3 linked regions of the Homo sapiens genome follow. The protein of the gene in region 2 interacts with the protein of the main gene of each other region in a pairwise test. Each region holds a gene or a part of one and is shown on either strand. Other genes may lie near its edges.

The links.
Region 1: the proteins of AKAP1 (region 2) and DYSF interact in a two-hybrid assay, tested with the Homo sapiens proteins (one large-scale study listed by BioGRID and IntAct).
Region 3: the proteins of AKAP1 (region 2) and CELF1 interact in a two-hybrid assay, tested with the Homo sapiens proteins (one large-scale study listed by IntAct).

Annotation. Positions count from the first base shown.
Region 1 is NC_000002.12:71,473,114-71,476,762, reverse strand, and holds part of DYSF (dysferlin), read right to left. Parts: intron 1-3,649. UniProt on the Homo sapiens protein: Key calcium ion sensor involved in the Ca(2+)-triggered synaptic vesicle-plasma membrane fusion.
Region 2 is NC_000017.11:57,088,234-57,091,882, reverse strand, and holds part of AKAP1 (A-kinase anchor protein 1, mitochondrial precursor), read right to left. Parts: intron 1-3,649.
Region 3 is NC_000011.10:47,466,066-47,469,714, forward strand, and holds part of CELF1 (CUGBP Elav-like family member 1), read right to left. Parts: 3' UTR 1-3,649. UniProt on the Homo sapiens protein: RNA-binding protein implicated in the regulation of several post-transcriptional events. Involved in pre-mRNA alternative splicing, mRNA translation and stability.

The sequences.
Region 1 (3,649 bases), on a different chromosome or scaffold from region 2:
ATTTTGTGATGTGCAGCAGAGGTGCACTATGCATACTTCCCATTTCATCACACAGAACATTCTCAACACATGTACAGGAGGATTCAAACTAATCCTTTTACTGCTTCATCAAGGACACTCTTAAATGAAACTGCCTTTTTATTTTTAACTGTGAGTGCATGCAATCTAAAAAACACAACAAGAAGCACAATTTAGTGCCAAGGCCTTTTTTTTTTTTTCTTGAGATGGAGTCTCACTCCAGTCATTCAGGCTGGAGTGTGATGGTGTGATCTCGGCTCACTGCAACCCCTGCCTCCCAGGTTCAAGCGATTCTCATGCCTCAGCCTCCCGAGTAGCCGCGACTACAAGTGCCTACCACCTAGCTTGGCTAATTTTTGTATTTTTAGCCTGACCATGTTGGCCAGGCTGGCCTCAAATTCCTGACCTCAGGTGGTCTGCCCACCTCGGCCTTCCAAAATGCTGGGATTACAGGTGTGAGCCACCACACCCAGCCTGCCAAGGCCTCGATTAGTGATCAGGTGCCAGTAGTATTAGCTGCCATTGCTGTTGTACCATCAGTACAAATGTCCAAACAGTAAAAAAGGCAGATAGCCTCTTAGTGTTGTTGTGAAGGAGTTTTGACCTTCTGACCTGCTCAAAGAGTCTTGAGGATCCCCCCAAGTTCCATGTACAACACTTTAAGAACTTCTTAGGGGCCAGTGAGGTCCTCACACTTGTAATCCCAGCAGTTTGGGAGGCTGAGGTGGGAGGATCGCCTGAGGACAGGAGTTCAAGACTAACCTGGGCAATATAGTGGGGCTCCATCTCTACAAAAAATTTACAAAATTAGCCAGGTGTAGTGGTGCATGTGCCTGCGGTCCCAGCTACTCGAGATGCTGAGGTGGGAGGGTTGCTTGAGCCCAGGAGTTTGAGGCTGCAGTGAGCTGTGGTCGTACCACTGCACTCCAGCCTGGGCAACAGAGCAAGACCCTGTCTCTAAAAAATAAAATAATCTCTTAGGAAATTCATTTAACATTTCTGCCTCAATTTCATCATCATAATATCTACCTTACAAGGGGTTGCTGTGAAAATTACCGAGATAGAACGTTGAGGTGCCTGGCACATAGTATGCTGATTACATGTGAGTTTCCTTCCCCTGCCCTCCCCTCTGTGCCCACTCTGATGGATCTAGTGAACTCCTACTGACTCTTCAATACCCAGCACGGTTGTCTCTCCTCTGGTAAGACTCCCCTGACTCTCCCAAAAGAGGTAGCTGATCTCTCTTTGGTGCTCCCTAACCATGCTGTGACCACATGTGCAGGACAGCCGTGTAGCAGTGTGCTTCTAGCTCTGAACCCCCAACTGGGCTGGGAGTTTCTGGCGGCAAACACCATGCCTTACTCACATTACTAACTGTAACCCTAGTCTATAGCGAGGTGGCCAGTAATCGGGTGCTGAATGAATGGGTCCTTTTCTTTCCACGTTGACTGCAAGTTGACTTCCTCACAAGAGGATAGAAGCGCTGTTTCCAGGGAACGCCCCAAGACTTCATTCATGGTGTGGCTGTTTGTCAGCGGAGGGAGGAAGAAAGGAGGCGCCATGTGGGGGAAGGGTCCTGGCTGAACCACTTTGAATTCTGTGTGGCCCATATTGGTGTGGCTCCAGCAGGAGTCAGACACACCGCTTTGGAGTCACTCAACTAACAGCCACTACTATGTGACCTTAGGGAGGACTCATAACCTCTAGGCCTTGCTCCTCAGCAATCAGTGGATCATAATAAAAGTGTCTGCTGCACAGGGTTCTGAGGGGGCCTGAGATGCAAGCTACGTGTCCACTTCCCCTCCCCTATCACAGATCAGCTTCCTGTGACCTACAGGAGTAACATGGAAAATTCCATCTGCAGCCTCTCATGAGTTGCACACTTGGAAACTCATTTCCTGGTGCTCCAGGCTTCCTTAACTGAGCGATATCTGTGTGCCAAGCCCTGTGCTAAATATCTTTTAATCATTTTCCACTTCCTACCTTCCCTGTAGATGAGGAGAATAAAAGCTCTCAATGAGATTTCACTAAGTCCTGGTTAGAAGGGCCAACTCTGGGACCCTCTGGGTAACATGAAGGAAGGGGTCACTCATGGGTGCTGCAGCCCCAAAGAGGAGAAAGAAAGAAACGAAACATTCACTAAGCACAATCACGTGATTTACAGGCACCAAGAAAAGGGAAGGCACATTGATAATTAGGAAACTGTTAAGAAAATAGTTCCTCATCATGGATTTTGGCCTGCCCTGTTCCTGATTATTAATTTAGGCCTTGAGAGATGTGGCTTTATGCATGTAATTTAACAGAAGTTGAAGATACAGGAGAGCTCACAGCTTATGCTGGGTGAGGAAAGGGGGCCATGCCCTCTTCCCAAACTGCTCTGAGGAACTGGGGACCAGCAACAGGTGTAAGATTCATGATGAAACCCTGAGGGTTCCTCTAGACTGAGTGACTCAGCCAGTTACAAAAAGACAAATAGTGTGTGATTCCATTTATATGAGGTACCTAGGGTAGTCAAAATCGGCTGGGCATGGTTGCTCACGCCTGTAATCCCAGCACTTTGGGAGGTGGATGCGGGTGGATCACCTGAGGTCAGGAGTTCCAGACCAGCCTGACCAACATGGAGAAACCCTGTCTCTACTAAAAATACAAAATTAGCCAGGCGTGGTGGCACATGCCTGTAATCCCAGCTACTCGGGAGGCTGAGGGAAGAGAATCACTCGAACCCGGGAGGCAGAGGTTGTGGTGAGCCAAGATCACACCATTGCTCTCCAGCCTGGGCAACAAGAGAAAAGCTCTGTCTCAAAAAAAAAAAAAAAAAAAAAAAAATCATACAGAAAGTAGAACTGCAATTACCAGGGGCGGTGAGGGAGGGGAATAGGGAGTTAGTGTTCAATGGGTATAGAGTTTCAGCTGGGGAGGATGACAAGTTCTGGAGATGGTGATAACTGCACAATGATTAATGCCACAGAACTGTATACTTAAAAATGGCTAAGATGGTACATTTCATGTTATGTGCATTTTACCACAATTTTTTTTAAGTCCAGGTGGGAAATGGAATGGACACAGGTGGTGGGCCTGAGGTCTACTGGCCAGTATCGGCTTGGCGAATGGGAAGCAGGAGGAGCAGAAGATGTCTCCCAGTCTCGGATGTCCCTCCTAGAGAGGGGACAGAGAGAAGGAGAGGAGTTGCGGTGTCTCAGACTCCCAGTGAGAGAGACAGAGAGACAGCTGCATCTGCCCATGAGTCAGGCAACAGGAGTTACTCTCAGAAGCTGCAGGGGGCTTTGGATCCTGCAGCAGCCTAGATGCAGACTCTTGCTTATCCCCCAGATATTTATTGAGGGCTTACTTTGTGCAGGGCGTTTCTTGACGGCCCCATTAGAATACACATAAGACCAAGAAAGTGACAGAAATTCAAAGAATCAGCAGAAAACCCAAAGGCAGCAGCAAGTGAAAGGAGAAAAGATGGCCCTAGCGTGGGCTGAAGGAAGGCCTGTATTACCTCTTGGTACAGACACCCCCAAACAAAAAGCAGAGGTAGATGGTCATTCTGACACCTGCCCTGCCATGGTGTTCTCAGGCCTGGACACCCCAAGAACTGGGCAGCTGTCTCCCCTATCATCAGCAGAGC
Region 2 (3,649 bases):
CCATCACTACAAAAAAAATTTTTTTAACTAGCCAGGCATCATGATGTGCACCTATAGTCCCGGGTACTTGGGAGGCTGAGGCAGGAGGATCCCTTGAACCCAGGAATTCAAGGCAGCAGTGAGCTATGATCGAGCCACTGTACTCTAGCCTGGGTGACAAAGCAAGACCTCATCTCTAAATAAATAAATAAATAAATAAATAATGTTTTTAATGGGGTTATGTGGTTTCCTGAAAAATTGCCTGCTGGGGCAACAAGGGGTCCTCACTCCCCAGGCAGCAGTCTGACACCTAGCTCCCCAGCTCCCCAGCTCCCCGGGCTGCCTCAGTCACATGCCTGCCTGCACCAGGAGGCAGGCTGGGCCCCTGCCACAGATCCAGAATAGAAAAGGCAGCCCTGGAGACCTCTTAAGCAGCCACCCCCTCCACACACCCCTTGGCAGCTTCCAGGGTGGCTTTATTCTCCTCTCTCTCCTGACGAGGCGGTGGCAGCAGAGACAGCAGCAGCTTTGGCACCAGGACCTGTCCCGTACACTGCAGCCACATGCACTTGGCCCTCCTAAAGGATGCCACCTGCTAAAAATAGCACCAGCACATGCTTGGCCAGGTGAGCCACACCAAAGCCAAAGGACAAAGCAGGGAGGTTATTTGCAGCACGGCCTTTTCTCCCAGAGACAGCTAAAGGCACAGCTGAGTGTGGGTCTCCCTCCAAGGCAGTTCAGGAAAGTGAGAATCACTCCTGCTCCTTTTTCTTGGGAGTGGCAGAAAGGAGGGGCAAGAAGGAGTGTACAGAAGACTGAACTGTCCTTCAGATCTGTCATCGACCCAACCTCACAAAGGCACATCCAGGCCCAGGCCAGAGAAGGGATGGGGGCTGGGGCTGTGCTTGAAAAGATCTTACTGCCTCCTCTAATCAGGAGGCCAGCTACTGCTGGGTGACAGCCTTTGGAGGGCCAGGAGATGGTCTGTGACCTCCAAGTGAGGTCTGACAGGTGTCGGGAAATTAGTGACTTCAGGATTGTCTTTTTCAATCAGCTCAGTCTTCAGAGCAGTTTCCCTGAGCCCTCAGGCACAGCTTTTTTTATTCATAGTCATTACTTGTGCATTTCAAAAGCACCCGATGGTTGCATAATTCTGATGATAAAATATGGCTTTGGAAAGACAAGAGAGTTAAGAGTAGGATCCTGTACTTCAGTTTCCCATAAAATGAAGATGTTCTGTAATAGGGAATATCTCCCTCACAGAGTTGTAACGAGGCTGAACACACTTAAGTCAGACTCCATATGTGGGATCAATGATTTTAATCTTTGTAAAACCCAGTTTAGTTTCCTGAATGAGGATGTGGTGATAAAGGGGCAGTAAATAAGCAACAACCAATGAGCATGGGGGGCGGCAGGGGCAGAGGAGGAGGTGGGGAGCACGCCCCAGCCCAGGTCCAAGCCAGTCCAGCCCTTGCTGTGTCCAGGGACCAGTTTACTCTACTCGGATCTTGTTTCTTCACCCACAAACTAATCACTGTACTAACCTCATAGGGCTGACAGAGAATAAAAATGACACAGAAAAAAAAAAGCCACTAATATGCCAGTAGGTGCTCATCAGTAAGTGTCCTTTATGCTGCCTGGCTCCAAGAAAAGAGATCTCACATTATATATACCAAAGGTCAATCTAGCAGGGTTCAAACAAAGCACACCCAGGACTAGAAGAGGGGGCATCTGGAAACAAAGAACTCCCCACCCCTGCCACAACAGAACACGTTAGCATCCACGCTGTGGCCCCACTCTCCCCCAACACCTTCTGTGAAGAATGGCCCCTAACATTTAGGTGGACTGGAAACAGCAGAATGAAAACACAACCTCGTTTAAGAGAAGGGCCGCACTGAGATCTGTAGGAAGTCATCAGGTGGGTGAAGGACCAAGTAACAATATGTTGACATCTGACATTTGGAGACCAAGGACAAACCAGCAGGGATCTTTATGATAATAAACGGCTTCAAACCAAAAGGGCTTTCTAAGGGCTTAGCATCTGGACCTTTGCTTCACGCTCCTGTCCCCAGGTCCTTTCTGAAGGTCCTCACTCAAACTGTTTCAAAACTGTTCGTCCACTCCCAACTGGCAGACTAGAACTCACTTGTAGTATGCCATGGAGACAACCAGTAGATAATTTGTCACCAAAGCTGTTGGGTTTATGGACTCTGGAAGACTAAGCTCAAACATGTTATGCTTTAGAGATTTACAAGTTGAGACAATTAAGCTTTTAGAGTTGGAGAAAAAAAAACTTTCTAGGCCGGCGCTGTCCAACAAAACTTTCTTCGATTATGGAAAATGTTCTTGACCTGTACTGACCAGGACGGCAGCCACTAGCTACACGAGGCCACTGAGAACCTGAAATGTGGCTAATGTCACTAAGAAATTTTTTTAAAAATACTTTGAAAAGTTTAATTAGTCACACAGCTAGCAGCTACCCTACAGACAAGGCAGCTCTAAACTCCCCACACCCAGGACAAATTTAGGCAAATAAAGCTATCTTTAAAAATAAAAAATATTTAGAACAGTAGCACACCTTAGAGCTAAGAACTTGAGATGAACAGTGAGTTGTTTTTTTTCCCCTTAAGTCTTTGACATGTACTACCCATTGAGCTGTGCTCCCCAGCCCAAACACATCACTCCAGTGGCCCCTGGGCACGTTTGGTCTAACTCCAAGGCTCCCAGGACCATAATCTGAATACTGATAATTTTGACCAAACCTCTTTTAGCCACTGAATAAACCAAGATCTGGAAGGCCAACCAGCCTGCCTAGAATCACCGCCAGGTTTCAGCTCTGAGAGCTGCAGCAAGTCCCAGGCTCTTGTCAGCTAAGCCCAGCAGTGAAACAAGCCTCATCAGCCCTAGGTTATACATATTTTTACTTCCAGGACTCACCTCAGGGCCCTTCTTTGCTCCCAAGTGCAACTGGGCCTTAGTGACACCTGGCTCGGTGAACACAACCAGCCACCATTACAGAACAGGGAACACAATGTTTACCACTGACTGCTGCAAACTATCAAACCAAGCCGGAAAAACAACCAGATGGTGAAGACCCGGACAGAATGTGGACAAGGCTGCACCATTTAGTAAAATGAAAAAGTTAAGGCAAAGGACACCTTGAAAGCTATTTATTGCTGGAAAGCTAGTTCTCAGAATGCTGAATGATAACACACACAATGTTAACAATCTACTTAGAAAGCAGCAGAAAGATTAGGAGAAAAGCCCAGGGATTTAAGAATATTCCTTGGTTCTTCTCACAAAAGCCATCCAGAGGACCTAGTTTTAACTCCACACCCACGCTTCCTAGTTCCTCTACCCCTCAATTTGAATTTGTGTGACAGCCACTGAAACAATCCAGAATGACCTCCAGCTTCACCCTCACTGTTCTCAGAGGTGTGAGGATTAAAGGATTAGTGTGCTCATAACTCACCTAGCACAGTAACTATCAAGAAAGAGGCATCCTCTCAAGTTTAGCTCCCAGCTCCCCCACTACCTGTTTCTCCAGCCAGACTCTGTCCTACTTCAAACATGCTCACTGATGATGTTTTCCACAGCCCAAGCTTCAAATTAGGTACCAAGGCCAGGAGGTTCCTTCAGTGGGATGCCACATGTGATGGGAACTTAATGT
Region 3 (3,649 bases), on a different chromosome or scaffold from region 2:
AACACACAAAAAAAGGAAGGAGATTCCTTTGAAACACATACTCCCTTGCTCCAAACTTATAACAATTTTTTTTTCTTTTTAAATTCACTACACAAACTCTGTGATTAGGTAAGAAAAGCGACGAGGGCTCTCCTTGCCTTTTTTTAAACCATTAAAGTAAAATCCATAATTTTCTACAGAGTACAACACAAGTTCACACAAAAAAGACATTTTCTTTTGCAAATCAAAACAGGAAAGAAAGGAAAAGCTCAAACAAGATAAAGGAAAAGCATTTCTACGGCTGAATCACGACTGAGTTGATTGAATCCCGTTGTTGCTGCAGAACAGACTGTGCGTTTGGTCATAGTGGCAATTTTTTTTTCTCTTCACATTGTGAAATCACTTTACATTGTTTTCTAGTAGAAAAGGCAAAAAACTGTACAAAACCCCTAGTGTTAAATACAACGTTTGTACCAATAAAAAACTCACACAGGTTTGTCTCCAAAATGTAAAGTTTCTTTTTTTTTTTCTTTTTAAATTATTCACAAAAAGCAGCTGGAAATCAGAAAGGCAGCTGCCGCTCCAGGGTCTCAAATCCATTAAAACCACCACAGAACAATTAAAACAATCAGAGAGAGAAAAGGAAAAGGAAACAACGTCCAACATTTGGCATTTGGTTTTATCCACAGGTTTTCCCAGAGCTCCTCTTGGAATTGAAAGCAAAATATATTGGCAAACACTGCTTCTCAATACACAGGAAGGGGAGCCTCAGTGCCTCCTGCCAACAGAGGCGGCTCTGTGCAGTCAGACTGTGGGGTGCACAGCAGTCTCTCAGGCTGGGGTTTCTGGCCTCTTTCCATCCAATCACCCCTTCCAGGAAATTCAGCAGCCTACCAGACACTGGGCCTCTGCCTGGCTGCCCTTTCCCCCAGGCAGAGCGGCCTTGGGCATAATACCAGGCAACCTGCCAGCCCCAGAGCAGAAACCCTGCTGGGATCCCTTCCTTCATCAACCTTGGTGTGGAGGATGCTCAATAGCGCTTCCACCTCCCCCTCCCCAGCCCCTAGCTACATCTCTCCACCCTTCCCTGGACAGTCCTACTTCCCAGCTCACCCACCCACCAGCAGCTTAAGTCTGGGTGGGATCTATCATCAGCTCCTCCCCCTGTAACCTCTTCCCTCCACAGATCCACCCTGTGCTCCTCTCCTCACCTCTCCCCCTCCACTCACATTCTTACTCAAGTCTCCAAGACCCTGAGGCTGGATGGTGCCACAAGAGAGGAGGGTCAGTTTCCCTCAGGGAACCAAAAAACTGGCTTGCTTGGCACCCAGGGACAGTAGCTGTTTGGCTCTCCACCCAATTAAAAAAACAAATCCCTGCCCTTTCCCCCACCCCACTAGCTAAGCAAGAGCAGAGCTGTGATGAAGAGCCAGTGCCGGGTGGCTGGTGCCCAGGGCTGTAAACAGTGTGAAGACTGTAGTATTGTGCTTGTCACCTAGGAAAAGCGCCAGCAGGTGAATTGCCGCTTGGTGTGCAGATGGCCTCCTACGGGTGATTGGGAGCGCCCTCCTTCCTCCAGGTGCTCACTGCCCCTAATGTGCTAAATAAGCCTCTTACCCACCTGCTGCCACCTTCTAGGCTCTACCTCTGCTTCTCGTGTCTCTCCAGGCCCCCTTCCCACCCTCTCTGAGCAAAGCAGCCAGCCTCCCGGAAGCCCCGGTAAGACCTGGAGGCCACACGAAGTGACAGTCTAAGTGCACAGGCAAACGCTCTAAGGGCAATAGAGGAGAAAGTTGCCACTTCAAAATTAAACAATACAATCTTGAAAAAAATAATCAACCCTACAACAATTTAAAACAGCTTCTTTGAAACCCTTTTAAATCGATCAGTTTTTGCACAAACTATAGAAAACAGAGAGGTGAAGGTGATATATACGAAGGTGTGAAGAAACAGCAGGAAACATGCAAAACTTTTTTCTGGGCATAATCTTAGTAGGAAAGGAAAAAATTCAAAACAAAAACACAAAAACAATACAAAAACAAAAACAACAACAAAAAAATCAAAGCATCACATTTTGCTGTGGAGACTGTTGGAACAAGCATGGGGCTGAGGGGAAGGGGCAGGCGGGATATCCAGGACTCCCCAGAGTCGCTCCAGGGAAGAACCACAAAAGAAAAAGAAAAAGAAAAAGGGCTGGCTGGGGCCCAAAGTGCAGCCTGCGGTCAAAAAGGAAAGGGGGTTCAGGTGCTCTCCGCAGTTGAGAACTCAGAAGAAAAACAAAAGAAAGAACAATACATGCGGTCTCCTCAAGCCCCACAGACTGTATCAGCAAAATGTGCTCAGGAGCCTCAGAGGTTTTAGTGACATCTTTTATTTCATTGTTTACTTCAAAGTTGTCTTTAAAACTAAGCACACAGAGAAACAAAGCCTAGAAACGGACTGGCTGTGTGTTCACAGAAATACAAACACCACGCGGTATGTGCTAGTAGGGCTGCTCTGAAGACAATTACAAAGAATTGGAATCACAAAATCAAGTGGTTATCTTATGAAGTTCTAGAAAAATAGATTTTTTTTATATTCAAATGCAAGTTTAAATATTTCCCCTTCAGCAGTCGTTCTAGCAAAACCAATTTGGCAGCACAAAAGGAAAAAAAAAGGAAAGAAAAAAAGAAAAAAAAACGAAGAAAGAAACAAACATAATAAAAATACACATCAGCATCAAAGGTCAACACAAGGTCAAAGGTGAGAGTTCAAGCATCAGAGAAGCTGAAGAGACAGGGATTTGGACGATGTACTTGACGCCACATCGACATGCTTTAGGCACAACGATGAACAAACGGCAGGAATCTAGAAAAAAAAACAAACCAGAAAGAGGGAGACCCACTGAGTTACACAGAGCAATACATCCAAACAAAGAGAGAGAGAACAGGAACACTCACTGTGTGTACAGCCCTGAAATGAGGTGGGCGGGCAGGGGTTGGGTAATGACAGGGAACTTTTGCACATGCTAACAATGGACACAGGGAAAAGTCAAAAAGGACATGGAGGACACCAAGAACACATCTAATTGCCAGAGACAGAAGGGAACCTAAGGCTTGGATTTTCCATGAAGCACCCAACTCCTAAGAGAAGGTCTCCAGGGGAGCAGAGCCTCAGCCTCTCTCCCCACTCCCTGGTCACAACCCAAGGGGAAGCAGAAGATGCTGGCTGGGGTGGGGAAAATTTTTCAGGGAAGAGGACCAGAATTTCTGCTCAATCTTATGGGGATGGCCCTTTGTTCCCAGAAATCCAAGCTCTTAGCTTCCATCCAGGCCCTGGCCACTCAAGGGGAACCCAGGAGACAGTGGTCTGGCTGCATTCAAGGCAAATCAATTTCATGATGTAACCCAAGTAAGAAACAAAACTACAGCAGAAAACACATTGTAAGTGAAACCTTCACACAACAGAAAAGGATTGCTTAAGACTTGACAGCGAGTCTCCACTCTGAGCTGAGCCCTTTCACACGTGAGACTTGTAGGGGAGCAGCTTCTTCACAAAACCATCTTTGGCCTGGGGAAAGAACTGTGCTCAAGGGCAGTGCTACTGCTGTGCTAACTCACTGGGCAGGGGGAGGAGAGAACAGAGAAGTGCATGGTCTCACCAGCTGGCTGCTCAAGCAGCCCAGGACCCT